Regions from separate parts of the Homo sapiens genome. Here region 2 is linked to region 1. Evidence: fine-mapped expression QTL. Tissue or cell type: hippocampus. Region 1 holds a variant in brackets; the other region holds the start of a gene. All regions are shown on one strand. Distances are from middle to middle.

What was found. PIP is the estimated chance that this variant, and not a neighbour inherited with it, causes the effect.
Region 2: it holds the start of LINC01719, and the variant in region 1 is fine-mapped to the expression of LINC01719 in hippocampus (GTEx, PIP 0.92).

What each region holds. Positions count from the first base shown.
Region 1 is chr1:146,122,359-146,130,464 of GRCh38, reverse strand. It overlaps NBPF10 (NBPF member 10), which reads left to right. Exons shown (of 90, transcript NM_001302371.3): 12 at 2,183-2,346; 13 at 3,386-3,437; 14 at 4,057-4,229; 15 at 4,949-5,000; 16 at 5,605-5,777; 17 at 6,487-6,538; 18 at 7,187-7,359; 19 at 8,074-8,106. Among named protein-coding and RNA genes, the nearest start is that of NBPF10, 18 kb to the left of the region's middle. The variant A/G (reference allele first, on the strand shown) is at 4,491.
Region 2 is chr1:146,049,254-146,057,359 of GRCh38, reverse strand. LINC01719 (long intergenic non-protein coding RNA 1719) reads right to left here and starts at 4,764. Exons shown (of 3, transcript NR_125968.1): 1 at 4,412-4,764. RNVU1-6 (RNA, variant U1 small nuclear 6) reads left to right here and starts at 5,116; the gene lies at 5,116-5,279. RefSeq lists enhancers at 4,446-5,177, 5,178-5,906 and a silencer at 5,027-5,266.

The DNA of each region.
Region 1 (8,106 bases):
AGGGATCTAGAACTAGAAATACCATTTGACCCAGCCATCCCATTACTGGGTGTATACCCAAAGGATTATAAATCATGCTGCTGTAAAGACACATGCACACATATGTTTATTGCGGCACTATTCACAATAGCAAAGACTTGGAACCAAGCCAAATATCCAGCAATGATAGACTGGATTAAGAAAATGTGGCACATATACACCATGGAATACTATGCAGCTATAAAAAATGATGAGTTCATGTCCTTTGTAGGGGCATGGATGAAGCTGGAAACCATCATTCTCAGCAAACTATTGCAAGGACAAAAAACCAAATACCGCATGTTCTTACTCACAGGTGGGAATTGAACAATGAGAACACATGGACACAGAAAGGGGAACATCACACACTGGGGCCTGTTGTAGGGTGTGGGGAGGGAGGAGGGGTAGCATTAGGAGATATACCTAATGTTAAATGATGAGTTAATGGGTGAAGCACACCAATGTGGACATGTATACATATGTAACTAACCTGCACGTTGTGCACATGTACCCTAAGACTTAAAGTATTAAAAAATATATATATATATATACATACACACAAAAAATAATAAAGGAAAACTATACATATGGAAAAAAAAAAGAATGTTGAATATTGCTCCCACTCTCTTCTGGCTTGTAGGGTTTGTGCCAAGAGATCTGCTGCTAGTCTGATGGGTTTCCCTTTGTGGGTAATCCGACCTTTCTCTCTGGCTGCCCTTAGCATTTTTTCCTTCATTTCAACCTTGGTGAATCTGACAATTACGTGTTTTGGGGTTGCTCTTCTCGAGGAGTATCTTTATGGTGTTCTCTGTGTTTCCTGAATTTGAATGTTGGCCTTCCTTGCTAGGTTGGGGAAGTCCTCCTGGATAATATCCTGAAGAATGTTTCCCAGCTTGGTTCCATTCTCCCCGTCACTTTCAGTACACCAATCAAACGTAGATTTGGTCTTTCCACATAGTCCCATATTTATTGGAGGCTTGTTCATTTCTTTTTACTCTTTTTTCTCTAAACTTCTCTTCTTGCTTCATTTCACTAATTTGATCTTGAATCACTGATACCATTTCTTGCACTTGATCGAATTGGCTACTGAAGCTTGTGCATGCATCACGTAGTTCTCGTGCCATGGTTTTCAGCTCCATCAGGTCATTTAAGGTCTTCTCTACACTGTTCATTCTGGTTAGCCATTTGTCTAATCTTTTTTCAAGGTTTTTAGCTTCCTTGCGATGAGTTCGCACATCCTCCTTTAGCTCAGAGAAGTTTGTTATTACCGACTTTCTGAAGCCTACTTCTGTCAGCTCATCAAAGTCATTCTCCATCCTGCTTTGTTCCATTGCTGGCGAGGAGCTGCGATCCTTTGGAGGAGAAGGGATGTCAGGTTTTTGGAATTTTCAGCTTTTGTGCTCTGGTTTCTCCCCACCTTTGTGGTTTTATCTACCCTTGGTCTTTGATGATGGCGACCTACAGATGGGGTTTTGGGGTAGATGTCTTTTTTGTTGATGTTGATGCTATTCCTTTCTGTGTGTTAGTTTTCCTTCTAACAGTCAGGTCCCTCAGCTTCAGGTCTGTTGGAGTTTGCTGGAAGTCCACTCCAGACCCTCAAACAGGGATTTCTTGGTGTTGCCTATTCTCTCCCATGTGTTTAAATCCAGGGAGAGGTGTATATATTCTTTCTTCCTATTTGTTGGTAGTATGTTGGCTAGTATTTTTGCAAGAAAAGAAATTGAAAAAGTAAATATATTATATCAAAATATTGGGAAAATGGGGCCCTTAATACACAAGATCTGTGTCTGCACTGCGTCAAGAACTCTCTTCACTTGAATGCTGCATGTAAAATTCAACCCAATTTATGCAAAGTAGTTGAAGCCCTGTGTCAGTTCTCTGTGCTGCAAGTCATGATGGTAGTTTACAGGGAGAGTCCGGGTGCCCTGAGTTGGCTCATCTGTGGCAAATGTACTGAGCACATGCTGCCCATTTTTGCTCTGTCCCCAGAGCAGTCACCCTCCACCCTGTATTTAGAAGGATAGTTTTATTTCTCTTGAAGGAAAAATGCCTTTGGTTTCTGTGACCACTCCATTCTGTCTCCCATCAGATCATCTGGGAGGTTTTGTTGTCTAATGTCTGTTGGTTAAATCTTCTATCATCCCTGTCCTGCCTGGCTCATCAGGAATCTGCAGGAGTCTGAAGAGGAGGAAGTCCCCCAGGAGTCCTGGGATGAAGGTTATTCGACTCTCTCAATTCCTCCTGAAATGTTGGCCTCGTACCAGTCTTACAGCAGCACATTTCACTCATTAGAGGAACAGCAAGTCTGCATGGCTGTTGACATAGGCAGTGAGTACTCCATTGTGAAGGTGATAAAGCTCCAGTTCATGGCCCAGGTAGACCCCATAATCTTTGGGCCTTGTGCCCCTTGTTGGGCTGAGATTTGCCATCACCGTGGGCTGAACCTATATATCAATGTAGACTTCAGTCACTCTGGAGTCAAGTCTGAAGCACAGGCATGGGGTGGGTCAGTGAGCTTTACTCTCTTCCTAGTCTCAGGCCATGCCCGTGCCAACCTGGACTGACTGTCACGACATTAAACTCAAGGCAGGTGTGGCAAACTCACACCAAACTATGTAGCACATGCCCAGGAGTTGTCTGTCAGATCAGCTCATCTGAATTAAATGTCTCTTGCCAGCTACAAAATTCCTTATGAGTTTTGTTCCCAAAGCATGTCTGTGTGGTTCTTTACCTGCCCAAGGCCAGTGTCACCCTTGTCTACCTCTCAGTGAAAGATGTGACCCAGGTTTCACTGAATTTATTCCCATTTTCTGTGTCTTCTAAGTTCGCTTGTTTTAGCTCATCTGTCCGTCATGTTCCTGGTATGTTTTCTAGATAAATGGCTGACTTTTCACCCACAAAAGCCATAATAGCTGATGCTTCTGTGTAGAACCAAGTTTCATTTTGACTCAAGAGCTGGTACATTGCACCCCTTCATCAAATCTCTGTGTCCACAATCTCATAAACTATCAAATTCTGGGTATTTGATGAGAGAAAGCTTAATATTGAAGTATCTCTCCTATGAGGTGTTAGAACTATTTGCCTACAATTTATTGGGGAAAAAATTGCTCATTTGTGTACATAAACCTAGGACAGAGCACATAGGGAAGATAACATTCCAACACAGGGGAATTTTGCCCAAGGCTCATGAAAGAACCCAAGCCAGTTTTCTCAAGACTTGACCTCAGGCCTACTGGAATATTTCTCTGAAAGTCTCCTGTTCTCACACTGACAAGACTGATGTCCCTGTGTTAGGATTGGACAGAGGAATGTTTCTGTGTGCAAGGAAGAACTTAATGTAAGAGGGCACATCTGAATTTATTTGCAGGACATCGGTGGGATCAAGTGAAAAAGGAGGACCAAGAGGCAACAGGTCCCAGGTGAGTCTGAGAAATTGTGGACAGTTAATTTGATGTTGACACCTGGAGATGCCAAGTCCAGGGAAAACAGTACATCCTGAAAATAATGATTTTGTCTTGTCAGACAAGTCTGAATTATGCCTACTACATTGCTTTTTGGTTCTCATTAGAGTAAATGTTTAGGTTTCCATTTCTTCCTACCCTTATCATTTACTAACCTAGTGAAAGTTGACCATACCTCAAAAGCTGTATTCTCATGGTAACTGCCGGGAAACTTGAGCACATTTTATGCAAAATTATTGAGGACATGCTTTTCATGATCACTGTTCACTGTGTGTCCTGAGAGCACAAATACAGAGTGTCCTTTGACTCCCTCATCAGTGTGTCACCTGACCAATTGACTGAGCTCGCTCTGTGTGTGTGTGTGTGTGTGTGTGTGTGTGTGTGTGTGTCTTTCTCGTTCATCCTTTTCTACCTGGCCCTAGTCAATCCCAACATAAAGGCAATAATTTGTTACCTCATTAATGGATCTGTCCTTTTTCTTTTCAAACTCTTCCTTATGTTAGCCATGAAATCTAGCTGGGGCTGTGTGGTTTCTGATTCCCCCTGGCTTATTCTTTACTTTTTCCTACTTTTCCACGCTCAGCAGGGAGCTGCTGGATGAGAAAGGGCCTGAAGTCTTGCAGGACTCACAGGATAGATGTTATTCAACTCCTTCAGGTTGTCTTGAACTGACTGACTCATGCCAGCCCTACAGAAGTGCCTTTTACATATTGGAGCAACAGCGTGTTGGCTTGGCTATTGACATGGATGGTGAGTACCTTTCTATGAAGGTGATAAGGATCCACTGAGTCTTCTGGTTAGGGTCATATTCCTACTGCAAGTGGCCGTTACTGAGCTGAGAGATGTCATTGCCACAGGGAGGACCTATAGGCACATGTAGGTTGAATGAAACTCTAGTTCCACTTGGAAGCCCAGACAAGGGATGGGTCAGTGAGCAAGGCTCTCTTCCTAGTCTCAGGCCATGCCTGTGGCACCATAATCCTACTCTCAAGATGTTGGATCTGGGCAGAT[A/G]TGACAAATTCACACAACTCTGATTTTGTCTAAATTTTGTAGATCTTGTAGATTTCATCCTTTACTCTAATTTCAGCGTCTAAAATCCTCGCTACCATGAACAATCTGAGTATTTGATGAGACAGGGCTGAATAGTGCAGTTTTTCTCCTAGCAACCATTTGGGGGCATTTGCTTTAAATCGATTGGAAAAATATGGCATAACCATTTGCACAAACTTGGGACAAATGATATTTGGATAACGATCTACCAGAATAGGGAATTTTACCCACAGTTTCTGGGACAAAAACCAAGGAATCTCTGTGGTGATCAGCCTTCAGGCCTCCTGAAGAATATCTCTCACAGTGTCCTATTCTCATGCTGAGGAGCCTGAAGTCCCTGTGTGAGGATTAGACAGTGGATTGTTATGTGTGTAGGAGAACGAGCTTAATATGTCTGTCCATGTCTGAACTTATTGCAGAAATTGAAAAGTACCAAGAAGTGGAAGAAGACCAAGACCCATCATGCCCCAGGTAACTTTGAGCAATTATGGATGCTTAATTCTGTGTTGACACCTGGAGATGCCAGGTCCAGGGAAAACAAGAGTGTGTTCAATTTCATGTTTTCAACGAAGGTTGAATTACTCCTACTGACATTGCTGTTGGTTTTCATTGCAGTAGATGTTTAGGTTTCCATTTCTTCCTCCCCTTATCATTTACTCACTTACTATAGGTTGACCATACCTCAAAGGCTGTATGGCAACTGCATGGAATCTTGAGCAAGTTTATGGAAAATTATTGAGCCCACTCTTTTCATGATCACTGTTCGCTGTGTGTCCCGAGGGCACTAACTCAGAGTGTCCTTTGACCCCTTCATCAGTGTGTCACCCGGCCAACTCGCTGAGCTCACTTTCTCCTCTCTCTCTCTCTCTCTCTCTCCCTCTCCCTGTCTTTCTCTTTCATTCTTTTCTACCTGGCCCTGGTCTATCCCAACATAAAGGCAATAATTCATTACCTCGTTAATGGATCTGTCCTTTTTCTTTTTAAACAGTTCCTTATGTTAGCCATGAAATCTAGCTGGGGCTGTGTGGTTTCTGATTCCCCCTGACTTATTCTTTACTTTTTCCTACTTTTCCAGGCTCAGCAGGGAGCTGCTGGATGAGAAAGAGCCTGAAGTCTTGCAGGACTCACTGGATAGATGTTATTCGACTCCTTCAGGTTATCTTGAACTGCCTGACTTAGGCCAGCCCTACAGCAGTGCTGTTTACTCATTGGAGGAACAGTACCTTGGCTTGGCTCTTGACGTGGACAGTGAGTACCTTACTGTGAAGGTGATAAGCCTCCACCTGGTCTTCCAGATAGGGGTGATATTCCTGTTCCAAGTGCCCCTTACTGACCCGAGAGACGTCATTGCCGCAGGCAGGACCTATGGGCGCATATAGGTTGTAATGAAACTGTAGTCTCAGTTGGAAGCCTAGACATGAAATGGGTCAGTGAGCAAGGCTCTATTCCTAGTCTCCAGCCATGCCTGTGGCAACCTGAGCCCGCTCTCAGCACATTGGACCCAGGCAGATGTAAAAAATTCACAGAAGTATGATTTGGACTGAAGGGTTTGTAGATTTCCTCCTTCATTCTAATTTCAGTGTCTAAAATTCTTGCATCCATGAACGAGCTGGGCATTTGATGAGACAGGGCTGAATACTTTAGTTTTCCTCCTGGAAATCATCTGGGGCATTTTCTTTGAACTGATGGGAACAATAAAGCATAACTGTTTGCACAAACTTGGGATAAATGATTTTGGGATAACGATGTACCAGAATGGGGATATTTCACCCTTGGTTCTGAGATGCAAACCAAAGAATATCATGACCAGCTTTCAGGCCTCCTGAAGTATATCTCTCACATTGTCCTGTTCTCATGCTGAGGAGCCTGAGATCCCTGTGTGGGGATTAGACAGTGGACTGTTATGGGTGTAGGTGAATTGGCTTATTTTGTCTGTCCCTGTCTGAATGTATTGCAGGAATTAAAAAGGACCAAGAAGAGGAAGAAGACCAAGGCCCACCATGCCCCAGGTAACTGAGCAATTGTGAACAGCTACTTCTGTGTTGACATCTGGAGACTCCTGGTTCAGGGAAAACAGAGCGGGCTGACATTATCGATTACATCTCTTCAACCAAGCCTGAATTATTCCTACTAACATTGCTGTTGGTTTTCATTGCAGTAGATATTTAGGTTTCCATTTCTTCCTCCCCTTATCATTTACTAACCTACTGTAGGTGGACCAGACTTCAAAAACTGTATTCTCATGGTGACTGCATGGAAACTTGAGCACATTTTATGGAAAATTATTGAGCACAGTCTTTTCATGATCCCTGTATGCTGTGTGTCCTGAGGGCACTAACTCAGAGTGTCCTGTTACTCCCTCATCAGTGCGTCACCTGGACAATTCACTGAGCTCGTTCTCTCTCTCTCTGTGTGTGTGTGTGTGTGTGTGTGTGTGTGTGTGTGTGTGTGTGTGTGTGTCTATCTGTCTTTCTCTTTCATTCTTTTCCATTTGGCCCTGTTCTGTCCCAACATGAAGGCAATAATTTGTTACCTCATTAATGGATCTATCCTTTTAGTTTTTTAACCACTTCCCTATGCTACCCATGAAACCTAGTTGGGGCTCTGTTGTGTCTGATTTCCCCTGGCTTATTCTTTACTTTTTCCTCCTTTTCCAGGCTCAGCAGGGAGCTGCTGGAGGTAGTAGAGCCTGAAGTCTTGCAGGACTCACTGGATAGATGTTATTCAACTCCTTCCAGTTGTCTTGAACAGCCTGACTCCTGCCAGCCCTATGGAAGTTCCTTTTATGCATTGGAGGAAAAACATGTTGGCTTTTCTCTTGACGTGGGAGGTGAGTACCTTTCTATGAAGGTGATAAGAATCCACTGAGTCTTCCATATAAAGATCATATTCCTGCTCCAAGTGGCCATTACTGAGCTGAGAGATGTCATTGCCACAGGGAGGACCTATAGGCACATGTAGGTTGAATGAAACTCTAGTTCTACCTGGAAGCCCAGACAAGGGATGGGTCAGTGAGCAAGACTCTCTTCCTAGTCTCAGGCCATACCTGTGGCGCCCTGATCCTATTCTCATGACATTGGACCTGGGCAGATGTGACAAATTCAGAGAACTATGATTTTGACTCAAGGGTTTGTAGATTTCCTTTTTCACTCTAATTTCAGTGTCTAAAGTCCTCACAACCATGAACAATCTGAGTATTTGATGAGACAGGGCTAAATATTGCAGTTTTTCTCCTAGAAATCATTTGAGGGTATTTGCTTTAAGTTGATTGGAAAAATATGGCGTAACTGTTTGCACAAACTTGGGACAAATGATATTGAGATAACGATCTACTAGAATAGGGACACTTTACCCACAGTTTCTGGGAGAAAAACCAAGGAATTTCTATCATGACCAGCCTTCAGGCCTCCTGAAATATATCTCTCACAGTGTCCTATTCTTATGCTGAGGAGCCTGAGGTCCCTGTGTGAGGATTAGACAGTGGATTGTTATGTGTGTAGGGGAATCAGCTTAATGTGTCTGTCCATGTCTGAATTTATTGCAGAAATTGAAAAGAAGGGGAAGGGGAAGAAAAGAA
Region 2 (8,106 bases), 73 kb after region 1:
GGACATCTCCTTAAGGAAAGGTCCTGAGTCAGGTCTTGGCAGGGAGGGAGGTTACCTTGCCCATTGGCAGCTGAAGATGGTTGGCCAGATGAGGGCACTGAAATCCATGTCCTCTAAACTTGTAGTTCAGTAAAAGAACGACAGCAGTAAAGGGTCTTTAGGAAGAGGAGGTGGAAGACCTGATTTGGGTTGGGGGCTCCAAGAAGAATGTCTGCCTTGCTGTGCAGAAGCCTCTGCATAACCTCCCTGGTCCCCTTGCTCAGTCTCCTGGCCAGACCCCTGTGAGCCCTGGAAGTGCACAGTCAGCTTAGCCAAGGCATCTCCAGCTGGGACTCATCCCTGGGCATTTCTGTGGCCTTGGGTTCCCTGGCCTCCTCCAGGCCCTGTCTTGCAGGCAATCGTCCTGCTAGGGAAGGGGGAAAGGAGGCTACTTGACAGTTAACTCTGAGCAGCTCCACAAGGTCCTGACTTAGCTCCTAGTCACTTGCAAACCTATATACCCCCATCTCATCCCCCAAACGATGAAAAGAAACTTTGCAGGACTCATGCCAGACAAATAGAGTGGGACCGTTCTGTAGAGCCAAGTTCTCAGGACATCAATAAGAGATGGAAACCACCTGCTGGAAGGTGCCACAGTGGGAACTTTGGGGCCAGGGAGCAGTCACTGAACTGTCAGGGTGAATCCTGGCTCCTGGCCCTCACACACCCTTTCTCCCCCTCCCTCCTTCTCTCCTCCCTCCTGTCTGCTCTTTCCCCTCTCTCTCCTGAATCCCTCAGGTACCTTCCATGGGCCCTGACCCCTCCTTTTCAGAGGCTCCAAAGTGAGCCCTCAAAACACTTGGTAACCTTGGACACTTCCAAAACTGGAGAGACTTGACCACAGCATTTTTATGAGCTAGGAAGGTCCTCCAGAGCTCTTGCCTAAATTTTTCTGCTGATGAGAAGAGAACAAGAGTTTCCATCTGATCTGGTCCTAAGGCAACTTCTCCTTGGAGCAGAGTCTGGGCAGGAAGAAGGGGGTTGCCCAGGACCCTGGACTTGCCCCTCCCAGCTGCTCTGCTCCTCTCCCCTTCACTGCGGGAGGCTGGCCAGGGATCAGGAACCTCCGTTCTCCACAGATGCTGGGATTCCAGGCTCAAATCTAAATATTGGCTGATTTAGGAGGCGAAGGGAGGCAATTCCCTGGAGGGAGGTGTCAGGATTTGGGACAAGAGCAGCATCTAGTTGTCATCCACAGAGACCCCAAGGACAGGAATCCACTGGTAGCCGGTTGGAGGGGATCCCATGAAAACAAGATGAAACGCGCCATTAGTACTGGACCCAAGATCAGGAGATGAAAAACTGCACTGTCCTAAGGGATGAAAGAATTAGGGAATCCTGGAAGTAAAGTTTTTCATATAGGTCATTTCTTCCAAAGAGACATAGGGCAATGGCCCAATGACATGAACAAAAGAAAACTCGGGGTCTAGGATTGAGGGGAGGCAGCCTTTTTAGTGGAGACCTGTGACCTGGAGGCCCAGGGTCACCCTGAGAGGGGAGGGGTCTTGCTGGTCGCTGGGTCCGGGACTCCAATTGCACACAGCCAGTGGCATGGAGGGTCTGTGACCACGATTGGGCAATTTCCCCCATTCTGCTTATGGAGCAATAGAGAGGAACCTCACTGGAATTATACAGAAAGGTCCCAGTGAGACTTGAACTCTGATCACTGTATTCAGAGTCCAAAGTGCTCACCATTACACCATGGAACCTCACACTAGCTTATAACTGGAGGTAACTGAGTTCATACTTAGCAGCCATAGTTCCCACACACCTATGTTAAGGCATTTCTTCTGATCCCTCAAGCAACACCAAGGAAGGTGGACCTGCGAGAGAGGAGTCATCCTCTTTCTTTCTTTCTCTCTGCCCTCTCCTTTGATCAACTTTTATCATTTCATTTGCACCTCAGAAAATGAGGCAAAATCCAGTTTGGGCTTAGGGCCAGAGAAGAGCCCTTGAGGCCTCCCTCTGGAAAACATACTCTCTCAGTTTACCAGAGTTTCCTGTACCAAGGGGAAATTTCCGCAAACAGTAGTGTTATATTCTTTTTGCCTTCCCTCTTTTCCCTTTGCCCAGGGAGGCCAGATGATTGTGAGAACAGGACTTGGGACTTCCTGTGTGTCTTGCCCCCTTCCTCCATGTGATAAATAATGGCTGACACCAAGCAAGTGGGATTGGGAGGCAGGGAATCTTTCATTTTCTTCTTCATATACTTCTACGCATTTGTTTGGTTGGTTTTGGCAAGATTTTCTCACCAGAAATGGAGATTTGTTGGATTTAAAATAAAAAGTAATCAGCCATGTTTTACATTTCTATAAAACACTCAAACCAGGCCATACTCCCCTGCTGTGCCTCAAAATCAACCATAAACTGTCGAGGTCAGGAGGCAGGGCCCTCACACTTAAGCACAGTGTGTTTCCTCAGAATTGGCCAAGTTGATGCCACTCCAATTTCTCAATATACCACAACCCATTAATTGCGGTTTTTAAAAGTGTACATGTATTTTTACCAAAACCCCAGGGCTTCAGTGTTCTCAGCACACAGAAAGACAATCATTGAGACATTGAGTATTGCTGAGGAAGAAGGCTTTAATCAGGTGCTGCAGCTGAGTAGACAGGAGATGAGTCTCAAATCTGTCTCCCTGATTGACTAAAGTTAGGGGTTTATATAGCGCAGAAGAAAAGTTAACTGTGTGTGGGAAAAGAGGAACTAGAGAGGGGTGAGGAAGCACTCGTGATGAGTGAGGGGACTGGCATCTCATTGTCTGGATGCTGTGATTGGCTGAGTTTCGGGTCTCTGATGCTTTTTGAGAGGCCTGAGAGTCCTTTCCTGAGGAAGGAACTCAGATAAAACAAATGTAAGTTTGTTTTATAGAATGGCTTGACCTCAGGAGTTTGAAACCAGCCTGGGCAATATGGTGAAACCCTGTCTCTACCAAAATACAAAAAGAAAAAGAGGGTTGCTTCCAAGATGGCTGAATAGGAACAGCTCCGGTCTACAGCTTCAAGTGAGATAGACGCAGAAGACAGGTGATTTCTGCATTTCCAACTGAGGTACCTGGTTCATCTCACTGGGACTCGTTGGACAGTGGATGCAGCCCACGGAGGATGAGCCAAAGCAGGGTGGGGTGTCGCCTCACCCGGGAAGTGCAAGGGGTTGGGGGATTTCTTTTTCCTAGCCAAGGGAAGCTGTGAGTGACTGTACCTCGAGAAGCAGTACACCCCTGCCCAAATACTGTGCTTTTTTCCACTGTCTTTGCAACCGACAGACCAGGAGATTCCCTCTTGTGCCTGGCTCGGCAGGTCCCATGCCCATGGAGCCTTGCCTGCTGCTAGCACAGCAGTCTGAGATCAACCTGTGACACTGGAGCATGGCAGGGGGAGGGGGTTCTGCCACTGCTGAGGCTTGAGTATGTGGTTCTATGGTCACAGTGTAAATAAAGTGGTAGGGAAGCTCGAACTGGGTAGAGCCCACTGCAGCTCAGCAAGGCCTACTGCCTCTAGATTCCACCTCTGGGGGCAGGGCATATCTGAATAAAAGGCAGCAGACAGCTTCTGCAGACTTAAACGTCCCTGCCTGACAGCAGGGACTGCTGTCATAATCATTATGATTATGAATCATAATCATGAAGACAATCTGTATTCCAGAATAGTAAGGGAACCTATTCCATCAGGGAGCCAACTGAAAACATCAAATCCCAGTTCACACCCCAGGGTGTGGTGTCATGCACCTGTAGTCCCAGCTACTTGGGAGGATTAGTAAGGAGGTTTGCTTGAATTCGTGAGGTCAAGGCAGAAGTAAACCCTGATCATGCCACTGTACTCCAACCTGGGCGACAGTGAGACCTTGTCTCAGAAACAAACAAACAAACAAAAAACCCCACAAAACCAAACAACAACAAATTGTCACCTCATTCTGAAATGACAGTGGCAAACATCACTTTGCTATTTGAAAATTAAAAGAAGCCGGGCGCGGTGGCTCACGCCTGTAATCCCAGCACTTTGGGAGGCCGAGGTGGGCGGATCACAAGGTCAGGAGATCGAGACCATCCTGGCTAACAGAGTGAAACCCCATCTCTACTAAAAATACAAAAAATTAGCCGGACGTGGTGGCAGGTGCCTGTAATCCCAGCTACTGGGGAGGCTGAGGCAGGAGAATGGCGTGAACCCGGGAGGCGGAGCTTGCAGTGAGCCGAGATAGCCCCACTGCACTCCAGCCTGAGCGAAGAGCGCGAGACTCCGTCTCAAAACAAAAAAAAAGAAAATTAAAAGAAAAACACTCCCTCTTGCTATCAACCTGCCCTCTTGCTCTAACTTGTCTGACCCATGGTTTAAAATGCCCAAAAGCTGATGTACTCAAATTATAGTACACTTACCTGTTCTGCACCAGCATTTACTTTTGTCTGGAGGAGATCACCATGCATGGTCCTATACATGTCTAATGGCATGGAATGATGAAGGGTAGTGTCTTTTAGGATAGTTGGATACATATATATATATATATATATATATATATATATATATATGCGGAATGCTACATCACAAGAATAAGAATGTGAAAAGAACCAGTTTCTTTTGTAATCCTAAACGTTCTAGTCTGAGAATTAAAAGCCATTGTTCGAAGAAGGGTGCCCAGGGTCCAGCTGGTCGCCGAAAGCTTGCTCCGCAATACAGGCTAAGGACCAGCTTCTTTGGAAGAGAACAGATGAGGGAAGCAGGAGAGAAAAAAGGGAGAGGCAGACGTCACTTCCCCTTGCCGGCTCCGGCAGCGGGTTGGTCGGCTGAGCGGCAGAAAGGCAGACGGGGACTGGGAAAGGCGCTGTCGGTGACATCACGGATAGGGCGACTTCTATGTAGATGAGCCAGCGCAGGGGCTGCTGCTTCGCCACATGCTGCTTCGCCACGAAGGAGTTCCCGTGCCGTGGGAGCGGGTTCAGGACCGCTGGTCGGACCTGAGAGTCCCAGCTGTGTGTCAGGGCTAGGAGGGCTGGGGGGGAGGGGGGTGTGCGCGGGGCAAGTGACCGTGCGTGTAAAGGGTGAAGCGTGTGAGGCTGCCGGCGGGGCGGAGGTGCAATAACTCATACTTACCTGGCAGGAGAGATACCCTGGTCACGAAGGTGGTTTTTCCAGAGCGAGTCTTATCCATTGCACTCCGGATCTGCTGACCCCTGCAGTTTCCCCAAATGTGGGAAACTTGACTGTATAATTTGTGGCAGTGGTAGACTGCATTCGCGCTTTCCCCTGTATTTTTGTCGTTTTAAAAATAGGTTTTGTTTGCTGCAGAAACGCATACTGGGCGTCAGCGTAAGCTGAGAATCAGGTCTTTGTTCCCATCTGTAACTTCACTGAAACTAAAAATTTGGGACATCGTGGTTCTCACGTTTGTAATCCCAGCAATCTATGAGGTACGTCGATAGGTTATGTTTATGTTAATATCGCTCGACCTCAGGCGTGTGTGGGCAAATATAGTGAACCCGTCTCTACTAATCTCTTATCTTTTTTTGTTGTTGTTCTATAGAAATAAAACTAAGCTTTTCTTTTCCCTATGGGATTAACAGCAAACAGTCCGCTGGAGTGTATGGCGCGATCTCGCCTTACTGCAACCTTTGCCTCCTGCGTTCAAGCTATTCTCCTTCCTCAACCAGAGAATACTCAGCCTCCCGAGTAACTGGCATTACAGGCTCAGGCAACCAAAAAATTAGGTCCGGCTAATTTTTTGAATTTTTAGTAGAGACATGGTTTCACCGGGCCGGGCGCACTGGCTCGCGCCTGTAATCCCAGCACTTTGGGAGGCGGAAGCGGGTGGATCATGAGGTCAGGAGGTCAAGACCATCCTGGCTAACACAGTGAAACCCCATCTCTAATAAAAATACAAAAAAAAAAAATTAGCCGGGTGTGGTGGCACGTGCCTGTAGTCCCAGCTACTCAGGAGGCTGAGGCAAGAGAATCGCTTGAACCCGGGAGGCAGAGGTTGCAGTGAGCTGAGATCGCACCACTGCACTCCAGCCTGGGCGACAGAGTGAGACTCCGTCTCAAAAAAAAAAAAAAAAAAAAAGAGTGACAGGGTTTCACCATGTTGGCCACCCTGGTCTTGAACTCCTGACCTCAAGTTTTCCGCCTGCCTCGCGGCCTCCCAAAATGTTGGGATTACAGGCCTGAGCCACCGCACCTGGCCTGTTTACAGACTTTACAGACACATTTTGTTTACAAGCTTTACAGGTACAGTTCAATTGCGATTAGTGTATATTATGTTTGGCCCAAGACAAGTGTCTTTTTTTTTTTTCCAGTGTGGCCCAAGGAAGCCAAAATTTAGACAACCCTGCTCTAGAGGGTTTGATTCATGGTTCCACTGGGTTATGCTTATTGCCTATAATTCCATTTGATATTTTCCAAATTTGATTTTTTAAAAAGCGTTTTCCTGAAGCACCCTAAAGCTTTCCTAATAATATGAGAACTTAAACCAGATTGGATGTGACAAAACCCTGCTGGAATCCTGCAACTTCTAACCTTAATGTTAGATCAAGAAGCAAAACACCCACCAGTCCAAGGGTCAGGGAAGCTGAAGATCATGCCTGAGCTGTAACAACGCCCTTCCCAGTATACAAAAGAGTGTAACAGCCACTCGAATTCTATCTTCCAAGTGTCTCCTGTTGCCCAGGCTAACCTAGAGCTATCTAAAGATGGCAAATCTGGGAAATGTGCATTCAGCTTGGCAAAACTGATACATTACAAATCCACCACAGTCCACTTCTTCTCAAAGTGGCATCAATGTACATCTTCCTCCTCTTCTTTTTTTCCTCCTCTTCCTCTTCTTTTGCTTCTTCCTCCTCCTTTTTCCTCCTTGTAAAATCATACTTAAGGTTCAAATAAAGACAATATGAAAATCATACTTTTTCTCATTCAGTGAAAATATGCCAACCCTTTCCCCAACAGGATAAAGTCTTTGTCTTTGAATGATGTTCACTCCTTTTTTAGCTAGATAGATCACATTCCATATTTGCTTTCCTGTAACCTAAATATTGAGATTTCTAAAAGTTAATTATTAATGAATGTGCTAGCTAGGGTGATGGAAGAGGAGAATTCTCAAGAAAAGTTTTGGTTAATATACACCCAAATGTATTCATCTCAAAATAATGAAGAAATACTCATAACTATTACAAGTCCTGATTTCTGCAACTGGCACTGGCACTAGCTGGTATTTGTAACTATCTTCACATCTTGTACCCACAGCCAGTTCCTTTGGGCCTGGGCCGGTGGACGTGAGCGTGGGAAGGACAAGAACCCGCGGTGCCCCCCACCGCACTATCCTCGGGTCTCCAGAGGTGGGATCCACCGGGCAGGGGCCTTTGCTGGATTCTAAACCGGCTCTGGGGATACAAGAACAGCTGCCTTTGAGAAACAGTTCAGGTCTCTATATTCCAGACTTCCTAGTAGGACTAAACGCTTAACGTTCACACGGGAATTCATGGTTCTCCTAAAACCCTGCGGTGGAATGCCTTCCTTCACCAAGCATTTATTGGGCACCTACTAGGTGCTAGGCTGGCTCTGGGCGAAGGGCTGCAGCCTGTGCAAACTCCAGGTCCCTGTCCGGTGGATCCCACCTCTGAGGGCCCGAGGGTGACGCGGTGAGGACACCACGGGTTCTGGTCCTTCCCACGCGCGCGTCCGCTAGCCCAGGCCCGGCGGAAATGACTGTGAGCTCAAGGTGTGAAGCGGGGCTAAGAATGGGAAAGCGAGTGACTTCCGCCGGAGAAGCTGCAGTTGTCGCCTGTAGAGGGGCCGGCGACTTTTGAGACGGTGAAGAGCAGGCGGGGGAACCAGTGAAGAGCAGACGGTGAGGAGCAGGCGGCCGTTTGGCCGTTGGAGTCCCCCAGCTGACTCTGCCCGGGTAGAACGTCCAAAGTGCCCAAAGACTCGACTCTTGGCTTCAATGTCTCCCGTGTTCTGGGTTTCTGGAGTGCGCGGGATTGGACAGGCTACAAACATATGAGATTATCTACGGCCAGAGGTTAAAATGCCATTTCTGGTATCAGCAAATCTAAACCATTAGAGTCTCTGTGGCGCCATCGGT